Regions from separate parts of the Homo sapiens genome. Here region 1 is linked to region 2. Evidence: fine-mapped expression QTL. Tissue or cell type: tibial nerve. Region 2 holds a variant in brackets; the other region holds the start of a gene. All regions are shown on one strand. Distances are from middle to middle.

Region 1 (5,394 bases), 82 kb after region 2:
TTATCAGGGACCTAACGAGGGAGAGGCCCAGAGCTGCTAGCAGGCTTCCAGGTATTCGCCTGCCATGCCACAGGCATCTTTGGATGGTTCCCATTGCTTCCCGTTACAGTTTCTGACTCTGAGGCATTGCTAGAGAAACCTGTCCTGCCAGTCAGTCAAGAAAAAAACATTAAGAAAAATTACCATTCAGGCCAGGCGCAGTGGCCCACGCCTGGAATCCCAGCACTTTGGGAGGCCGAGGTGGTGGGTAACGTGAGGTCAGGAGTTTGAGACCAGCCTAGACAACATGGTGAAACACTGTTTCTGCTAAAAATGCATAAAATTAGCTGGGTGTGGTGGTGGATGTCTGTAGTCCCAGCTACTTGGGAGGCTGAGGCAGGAGAATCGCTTGAGCTCAGGAGGTGGAGGTTGCAGCAGTGAGCAAGACTCTGTCTCAAAAAAAAAAAAGACTATCTAGCTCATATGTGTGAAAGTTTACCTGGTATATATGAAAGCAATACTTATTTTATAAAGTTTAAATTATTACACAGTCTATTTTTTCACCTAAAATAATTAGAGAGAATGATTATGTCCAATTTTGTTGAAAATGCAGGGAAACAAATTTGCTTATCACAGTTGTAGAGCTGTAAATTGGCACAACAATGGGGATATATTTTGATATGATAAGATATAATAGATGTGCGCAAAGATCAATGAGCAGTTGTTAATTATAGATACTTTACTGTGAATAAAAAATTGGGAAAATTTACCTAGTAATAGGGAACTGGCCAGTTAAATTATGTTATCTCCAAACAATGAGATACCATGTAGGCATTGAAATTCACATTGTGAAAGATTATTGATGGGAAAGAGTTAATTATGTATTTAATATTGAATTAAAAAATTGACTATCAAATAATATATGCAGTATATCATTTTTATAAAGAATGGTAAATATATATATAATGCAAATGCATAGGCATGTAAAATTGTACTGATAGATAAAAATGTGTGTATGTGTATAAATAAATTTAGTTTAGAAAATTGTTGACTAACATTTTACTACTAATGGAATTACGAGAATTTTTAAAAATCTGCATTTAGCAATTAGAACAAAGTAATTACTATATAAGATTGTTACTAGGTAAAGGGTAAGAAATTCAGATAAGATAAAATGCCTCACTCTCTTCATAACATCACTTGTTATTATTATTTTTAAATAAACCTGGCCCTTCGCATTCACGTTTGATCTACAATTTGCCCACATCAGTTACCCGTCCTTTGGTTGATACCCTTCCCTAAGGTCTTTATTAAGGGATATTATAGGTTTTTAAAATTGACTAGTCTACATTATTGCCATCCTGTTCACCTATGAGAAAACAGCTTAGATCTCACAATTAATGAAGGGTAGTGATTCAGCAACGGTGTTTGTTTTATTTGAATATTATTCTAGATCAGAGGTCATTATGTGGCAGTGCTTAGGCTGAGGCTGGGCCACAGGTGTTGGGATTAACTCCTGTAGTGTTCTCTAATATTTAAAAAGCATAAGATTATTTCATATAAAAATCCAGATATTAGGATCCTTTTGAAAAACAGATAGGCCTTACAATGCAGAACTTGAATTTCCACCAGACAGTGATTAGCTGGAGACTAGTAGACATTTTCCTTTATAAATGGGCACACATGCTCCAGTTAGCCATGGCTGCAGCCACCCCTTACTTTACCTTATTTTGGCTGAAATTCCTTGTCTAAGTTTATAGGCATTTTTGTTGCTGTCTCTTTTTTGGATCACCCCTATTTTCATCATATTTAAAGATTAAGATGAAATTAATAAATTGATAAGATAATTTGATGAGTATTTTCTTTATCATCTTAAGTAACATCATCCAGATGACAATTGGCCCTCTAATTTCAGAGTATGTTTCTATTTTATTTCCCTAAAAATAATAAGAGGGAGAGATACAGAAAGCAGGGGCTAGACAGAGAGAGAACATAGCAAAAGCATTTATCAGAGGAACACTTGTAATGTCAAAAAAACTGGTAATTGAAAGATTTTGGTTGTCTGGTTTACAATTTTCTCAGCCATAAAAAATTACTTTATTTGTATTTGAACAAGTCAATATTCAGTTTGTGTTTTAAAGTAAATTACTGAGCCTTTTTTCCCAACTGCCTCTGAGAATAGAAGAAGGAAATTAATGAACTATTAAAAAGAAACTAGCTTCACAAATTTATAGAAATTAAAAAAACAGAAAAACAGATTTGCTGGGAATATTACAAGGGTGCAATGATCCCCTGGCCTGTTAGGACATGAGGTATCAACTAATGTGCAATTAAAAAATAAAACCTGTGAGAAGGCAGTGTGGGAGAATAAAAGCCTATTAATGCACTCCTAAGGATTGAGGTTCTTGCCAGCAGAGCCATCTGTCAAGAGATTACAGAGAAGGAAATTTCTGCAGGAATCTTCCCCTGGGACGAGATAAAGTGCCAAGAAAAGGTGTGTGGCATCAGGAGTGAGGACAAACTCCGAGAGTCCTCTGCAGTGCTTATCGCAGACAGAGAGGAAACCATCCACCCACTGGCAGTCAGGGAAGAGGAAGAGAAGAGAGGGAAGTCTCTGGATTGCTTTTGACCAGAGAAGTGAGGTCGTATTGAAAAGAGTTTACAAAAACAAATTCCTTATAAGGTAAGTTAAACCTTGTTGTACTACACTCTTAAAATTTTCCAAAATACAACGTTTTATACTAAGGGCACTAATGAGAAAATGAATATTAATTTTATGAGTCACATTTACAGAAAATGATCAGAAATAGTTGAGGAAAAGTAAAATGTCATTTTTCTTGAAATCTTGAGTCTTTGGAGTTTATGAAAATGCCCAAGATGTTATTTAGATAAAATGTTGTACTAATATGCTATTTTCACTTATTTCTTCAAAATAAATGCCGTTTAAAAAGTAATCAAGATAAACTCATGATTATTTGCCTCTTGAGAATTAAGAACATGCCATGCTGTGAAATAATTAAAAACCATATGACCATGAAAGTTACAAGACTTGATAATAGAGAAATATATTTTTTAAAGTTTCTAGAATCATGGCAGGAAATGATACTTTAATTTTAAGATTCTAAATAGATCTTAGTTCATTTCCTGATCTATGTTTCTATATGGTAGTATTCTGTATATTTTAATAATTATTATTCCTATTTCCTTTGGTGATTGATTTTATTTTTTTCTAAGATGAGAAAAAATGTTGATTATAAAGAGGAAAAATATCACAAATTTATTATCTTGAGAATTAGATAAGCATTATACATTTTTTCTTTCAGAATTTTGTCAGAAAGAGAGCTGTTTAAATGCAATAAAATAAACATGTTAGAAGGCATGTCTTGTGCTAATTTACAAATGTTTTTAAACTTATAATATTGGTAAGAAATTGTTACTCAGAAATTAGGACTAAACATGCTTTAATTAAATTTTATTTTGCATTGATCAAAATAGAGATATTCTCCTTAAGTCACTGGTTACTTAAGGAAATGGAGATGTGCAGACATAAACATAAGTTCTAGACAGGGAGAAGAAATAAATCTTATCTGTTGGGAAAGAAAATAAAGTCAAATAACACAGTGCTAAGTCTGGCTGATCACAGCGATCCAGTGTTCATGCTGGCACTGTGCCCATAGCAGATTATTGCATTTGTAATTGGAGAGAAATTAACCTGTGAATTTAAGTCAAGTTATTCTGCGAATTCAATTAGAGTGGACAATTAATTTTAATAACCCAGGGTTTTGAATCTTCCTTCCTCTCCTACAAATGAACAATTTTTCCTGATTTATCAGAATATTATTTAAATTCTACTTTCTATTTAATTATTTTATCCATTCCTCCATTTACTTGTTCATTCAACCAATATTCAATGAATAATGTCCAGGTGGAAGGCACTATTTGGCTAGGCATGAAATAATGAACTGACGTGGTCCCTGCTCTCAAAGGGCTTATAGACCAGTACACTGCATACAAAGTTTCCCTTTAGCTTCATAATAATTTAACAAACAAAATTTAAATCTATTTTACCAACATGAATTTGAGGTTGACAGAAGGTAAGTGATAGCAGTAGGAAGTATCTATGTTAACATTATAATTCAAGACTTTCAGTACATTGGTTTTATTTGTTCTTTAGTATTTTTTTTTCCTGATAGTTTTTTTTTTATTATACTTTAAGTTTTAGGGTACATGTGCACAACGTGCAGATTAGTTACATATGTATACATGTGCCATGTTGGTGTGCTGCACCCATTTACTCATCATTTAACATTAGGTATATCTCCTAATGCTATCCCTCCCCCCACTTCCCCCACCCCACAACAGGTCCCAGTGTGTGATGTTCCCCTTCCTGTGTCCATGTGTTCTCATTGTTCAATTCCCACCTATGAGTGAGAACATTTGGTGTTTGGTTTTTTTCCTTGCGATAGTTTGCTGAGAATGATGGGTTCCAGCTTCATCCATGTCCCTATAAAGGACGTGAACTCATTATTTTTTATGGCTGCATAGTATTCCATGGTGTATATGTGCCACATTTTCTTAATCCAGTATTTTTTTATTTGTTTAAAGTAGCAAGGACTGAGCATTATTTACTCTGCTCTTGGGTTCTCATTAAATTCTTTACTTTAATAAACATGAAACAAATTAGTTTTTACATAGAAGAGGACAAGAATTCTTGTGCAGCAAAATGTCCTCTTCTATGTAAAAACCAACCTCTAAATATTGTCTATTTAAAATTGGAAAATAGATTCTTACCTACTATATTCATTGTTATTCCTACAATTAATTTTTGGTAATGTGCATTTCTATCAGTTTTGGCAGTATTATGATGGTTTATCCTAAACAAAAGTGATATTTAAGTTTTTGAGTTATGAAGATCTTCTCTGGGATCCTTGCCAGAAACAATGAAGTTCTTGCTTGGACCAGTGGGTCCAGAAACTGTCACTTCAAATAAAATGTGTTTATAAGAGAGCACTGTCTTCATATCTTTTCCAAATAATAAAGTACTAAATTCAATAGCCAATATTTTGATAATGCAACATATGTACTATAATATGAATATAGTATTCTTGTCATAGAGAATGAGTTAGTCAAAATAAAACAAGTTGCAGTCATATAACTGTGCAACTATTAGGAACAGACTCTTTAACATTAAAATAATGTAGTAGTTCAAAGGCACATAATGAAAGAGAACAACTGATTACTTTTGACTCTTTTTATCAGATGAAATCTATATTAGGCTTTTAGTTAGAGTTTGATATTTTTAGTCTTCAAAGAACATTTATTGGTCACAGAACATTTTCTTATATTATGTATTTTTGAATATTGATCTTTTTTGTCTCTTTATGTATATACAGTTGGAGAATACATTATTTTTGA
Region 2 (5,394 bases):
CATAGGTCATTTCCTCATAGGAACTCTCCTCCAGGCGTCTGCATGGCTAACTTCTTTACTCAGAAGCCACCTTCTCAGTGAGGCCTATCTTGACCATCCTGTTTGAAAGCACAATCCTCTTTCTCCACTCCCCATCCCTTGCCCATAACTCATCTTCTTTACCATGCTTTATTTTTTTCCCTCATAGCCATACTATCTTCTAACATCTCATACAATTTACTTGTTTATTATAGTTATTTACTGTTTCTCATCTTAGAATGTAAGCTTCTGGAGGCCAGGGATCTCTGTTTGGTTCATTGACACACCCACATACCTGGCTTGAACAATACCTAGCTACACAGAGTGAGTGTTCATAAATATTTGCCGAATGAATGAAGGAAAGGCCATGGGCAGGAACCTCATCCAGATGAAGTGTACGGTGAAAAATACCAGGCAATAAGCAGTCCCAATGGAGAGCAGCAGGAAGGAGGCAGGGTTTTAAAAACAGTCATCTGCTTTTCCATTTTGCATTAGGCCTAACCCTACTTTTAATTTAATGAACATAGTGAAAGATTCTAATCTACTCCAAAATAATTTATATAATAGATAGGCTTATGGGCATGACCATGCTTCTGACAAATGAGAGATTTCTGTCTTTGAGTTCTGCTGTGTAAACATGACAGATGGTTATATAAACATAGTACTTAAGAACTGTATTTGGCAAAGGAGCAAGAAATATTCTTACAATGACATTCTGCACTTTTCTTTACAAGAACCAGAAAATTGTATAAAGACATGAAGTCCCTTTCCCTTAAATCTGTAAAAAGTGTCTATTACCGTGTTCACCCAAGTCAACCATATTTCCAAACTGTTCAAACTGTATTGCTCTTTCTGCAACTGGACAACAATGGCTAATTTGATATTTAGGAAAATGTATTTAAGCTTTGATCTTTAATGTTGACTAGTTATTTGATATTTATTTAACTCCTGAAAATCTCAAGACTTATGAAGTACAGCAAAGGAAGAAAAAAATGCAAGTATCTTAAAAACAGTTTTATTAATATTAAATTATATTTAAGTGGGAAATTTGCAGAAATTTTCTATTCAGTAGACAATTTTAACGAATTAGGTTTACAACTTAATTGTATCAGACTTAGAGGAGGTTATATAATTTCTGAGGTCACCTTGAGATCATAAGGAAGATAATGCAGACTTTATTCTCAAATACAGCTCCCAGGAACGTACTTAGCTTATGAATAAACAGATTAAGAAGGATCTTTTGTTTCTTCTGTTACTCTTGCTCTTTGAATCAAGATTCAAAGATCATGATTTCTCTGCCTACACTCGCTCTAAGTTGCTTTTCTCTCAAAGGATGGTTTTATATGGTGGTACCCCTCCTGCCCCTACCCACCCCCCACCCACCCCCCAGCCCCTCATCTGTCTCCAGCCTTCAGTCTTTTCAAGAGAACAGAAGGAAAAGAGAGCTAATCACACACAGTCCACACTCTGGCCTTCTTAATGAAATGATTTAGGTTACTGAAGTTCTCCCTGTTAATGTTGTAGTTGTAAAAACTATGTGTATTTCATTAAAATTTCTTATGACTTTTGTTACATTGGCAACAATATCTCATATTTTATAGGAATATTTCTAATTGATATCCACAATCTAGATTTCAAGTACCTGGACAATGACATGTGTTCTGTAATAATGGCTATTTAAAGCAATAACTCAGAAAAGGACCAAACCAAACCAAACAAAACTGTGGGTAGGTGGGATCATGAGATATTTAGCTTGAATTAGAGAGTCACAAACCTTGTTATTTAAAAACTGGAAAAACTGGGAAAGCTTCATTTTCTCCATGAATTTTAAAGAGTGCACAAGCTTAACCCACTGAACACAACTCTGAAATGTTTCTAATTCCCTTATTATCAAGGAAGGTAGACCAGAGGGTGTGGAAAGAATTTTACCTTAGGGAAATGTACCGCTGTGCATTCTCAGTAACTGTATAGTCCATTTCTGCCTGTATGCTTGAAAATTAACGGCATGTTAACGGGACTATTGCCTACACTTGTGGCACTGTCTGCATAGGATTAGGCCATTAAATATTGATGGAGATAATTGTTCCTGCACTTGAACATCAGAAAGATGGAACTAAAAGTAGTTTAACTGGCATTTGCCTTTATGCTTGGTAAATAGAGGGCTGGATTTCAAGGTACAGAAGGATAAGTATTGCCATGTACTCAGCTCCATAGCCAAAGCATCATTGATCAGAAAGTGTGGTTTGTAAAAATGTTATAGTAAAAGTTAAATGAAACAATTCAGCTGAGGCTTGTCGAAATTTACTGGAATAGAATGTGATATAACTGTGCATTTAGAACATGCAAGCATGATTTCTTGCCATTTGTTGAATTATTTTTTATTTTAAAATGAAATTCACATGTGCTATGGGAAGAACTGCTGTTGTAGTTAGTGTATTTTATAATCCAGAAGATTTCTTATACTTTTATCAGATAATGCCTTAGGCAGGCCAACTGATTGAATAAAAGTCTCTAGGGCTTACTCTGTTTTATTGCTGTGCCTTGGAATTGTTTGTCTTCCAAACCAGATTTTCTCTTGAAAGGTTGTGTCCTGTTCATCATCTTAACCTCAGTGCCTAGTACAGTGCTTAACACATCCTAGCTAATCAATAAATATATGTCGAATGAATGTTTGTAATATCATCCATAACCTTGATATTGTTACACAGTCATAGAAATATCTCATCTGATGGAACTGAGTTTCACCAGATTTGAATGATGACACCGGAGCCTCATGTACTTTACATTATTGGTAAAAACAGGGATCTTGGCTACCAGCAGACTTGTTTTTGGATCTAGGCT[C/T]TATTATTTACTAGCATGTGATTTGGAGCAGATTATTTAAAATTTTTAACCCTTAGGTTTTTTATTAGTAAAATGGGGATAATATTCCCTATCTCATAAAGCTGGTTTGATAATTAAGTAATGTATTTAAAAGATCTATCCATAGTGCCCAGAACACCATAGCTTCTCAATGACAAAAATTATGTTCAAAAATTGCATTCAAAAAGAATTTGAGCGATTTCAAGGATCTATCCAATGGGTCTGTCTTTTGTCCAGAATGTGGTAAACAAAGAGAAAGAAAATAATGCAAGTGTCTTGAAAGCATAATACTAGGGGATTATTTGTTTAATTAAAATGACTTTCAGTCTTATTTCAGTTTATCTTTATTTATTTATGTATCTTTAATATTCTAAGCCTGTGTGGCACGAATCACTTGCTGGGTAAACTAAACCTGCCTAAAATTAAATCAGAATGGATCTCCTTATTTGGTGACCACTGTTATTATGGGCTGAATTTTATGCTTCTCCCTAACCCCAAATTCATATGTTGAAGCCCTAAACCCCAGTACCCAAGAAAATGACTGTATTTGGAGACAGAGTTTGTAAAGAGGTTATTAAGTTAAAATAAGGCTGTTAAGTGGGTCTTTATTCAATCTGATTAATCTCATAACAGGAGATTAGGACTCTCAGAAGAGACACCAGAGGCGTGGCCACACAGAGAAAAAGATCATGTGGGGACACAGTGAAAAGGCAGCCATCATAAGCCACAGAGAGAGGACTCAGAAGAAACCAACTCTGCTGACACCTTCATCTTGAACTTCTAGCCTCTAGAACTGTGAAAAAACAAATTTCTGTTGTTAAGACACCCGGTCTGTGGTATTTTGTTAAGACAGCCCTAGCAAACTAACACAATTTTGTACACTAAATAAAGTCCAATTCAATTTTAATTTTATAGAAACTGAAACAAATAATTTAAAGATTTACTTAGTAAATTACTTCAGATTGGGATCAAATGTGTACATGAATTATGAAAATGTAAGAAATGGATATTTAAATAAGTATACCAGAACATAAAAATTCCAGTGCCTGGTTTTTTTTTTTTTTTTGAAAGCCACTTATCCCAACAATAAAACTGATGCTCAAAATATTTTGGGACCTATCTTTATACTCTGTTAATTATGCACTCAAGAAAATAAGTGTGACTATATTACAGCCACTCCATTTTTGTTTGTTTGTTTATGTTATTCAGCTTAGTCATTTAAACAATTTTCACTGCAATCGCTACAAGTTTTGTTGTTTCTTAGTATTGAATCCACTCTCAAGGGATGATGACTTTCCACCATGAACTTTGAAAACAGTTCCAAAGAAAACTTCAAAAAGGTTTTGAGTGCTTAGGATCAATGTCAATCCAGTGGGTACCTTGATTTTTTACCTCCTACAGTCTGAAGCTCTTGTAGCCACTAGCATAATCTCCTGCATAGGTGTCCCTGGTGCTATTCTATTTCCTTTGGTAGCATGCTGGGTGCATCTCCCTGATGCTGTGTTTCCCGGGGTTCACAGATTTATGGTGTCATTTGATTTTTGCTTTTCAAATATCTTGAAATATTTCTTTTGGCTGACCTTGTTTAGGTGTGCTTCATTTTAGCTGTCTGTCAACTAACCTCCCTGTGCAGGCTGTTTCTAAGCCTCCTTATCCCCACCCTTTGCTTTGGTTGTTACATCCTGCTACCTCTCTTTTCAAATTTTACTTCCTTAGATTCGGTTATGTTACTTAAGCCAGTTAAAATTTCTCTTAGTTTCTGATACTATCAGTGCAGTGGAAGGGAGGCAACAGTGTGAGAGTTAAGTGAGGACCCTGAGGTTGGACTCTCTGAGTTCGAATCTCAGCTTTGCTTGTTGCCACTATCTGTGATTCGTTTGATTACTTACCTTTCAGAGCCTCAGCTTCCTTCTTCTTACAATGGGGGTTTCAGTGATACCTACATTATTGGTCATTGTGAGATTAAATGAGTTGATATCTGCAAAGCTCTTAGCAGAGAGCTTGGCACACAGTAGGCTCTCAGGAAATGTTAACTGCTGCAATCATACAGCATCTGTTTCTAGGAAGTAACAATGTGCATGCCTCAGCAATGGCTGACTCCTGTGCAAAAAATGCAAGCTAGAAATCCAGTTGCCTCTGAAAAGCTGTGAGTTGTCACTTAATTTCAGAAGCCACATGAAGATGGATTTCATGTCTCTTATCTTTGAGTGAGGCCAAAACCAAAAGCAGCTGGTTTTCACCCAAGAAAGTGGCCTGAAAATTATCATTGCACATTTCTCTCCCACTTTTGTTTTAAATTAGACTCCTCAAAGTCTCTACGTGGATAGGAGGCTATTTAATATTTCATTTGATCCCATTTTGCTACTAGAAACATGTAGACTTTGGGTGGGAGAAGCAGAAAGTGACTGAATAAATTTCAACAACCTTAATTTGGTTCATCTCAAAACTACATCTGTAGCCACATTTCCATTGAGGTTCCAACTTCTATCATTCCCGAAGAACAGGACAGTATGAACC

Which allele goes with the higher level. Alleles are on the strand shown, and positions count from the first base shown. SD is a standard deviation of normalised expression in the study named.
In carriers of allele T in region 2, the expression in tibial nerve of the gene that starts at base 2,347 in region 1 tends to be higher than with C alone (moderate effect, 0.51 SD a copy in GTEx).

Evidence for each region. PIP is the estimated chance that this variant, and not a neighbour inherited with it, causes the effect. A credible set is the group of variants that fine-mapping cannot tell apart.
Region 1: LINC02058 starts here. The variant in region 2 is the best candidate, but not a certain one, in a credible set for the expression of LINC02058 in tibial nerve (GTEx, PIP 0.87).

The regions. Positions count from the first base shown.
Region 1 is chr5:92,936,739-92,942,132 of GRCh38, reverse strand. It overlaps LINC02058 (long intergenic non-protein coding RNA 2058), which reads left to right and starts at 2,347. Exons shown (of 3, transcript XR_001742811.3): 1 at 2,347-2,662.
Region 2 is chr5:93,018,253-93,023,646 of GRCh38, reverse strand. No RefSeq gene overlaps it. Among named protein-coding and RNA genes, the nearest start is that of LINC02058, 81 kb to the right of the region's middle. The variant C/T (reference allele first, on the strand shown) is at 2,860.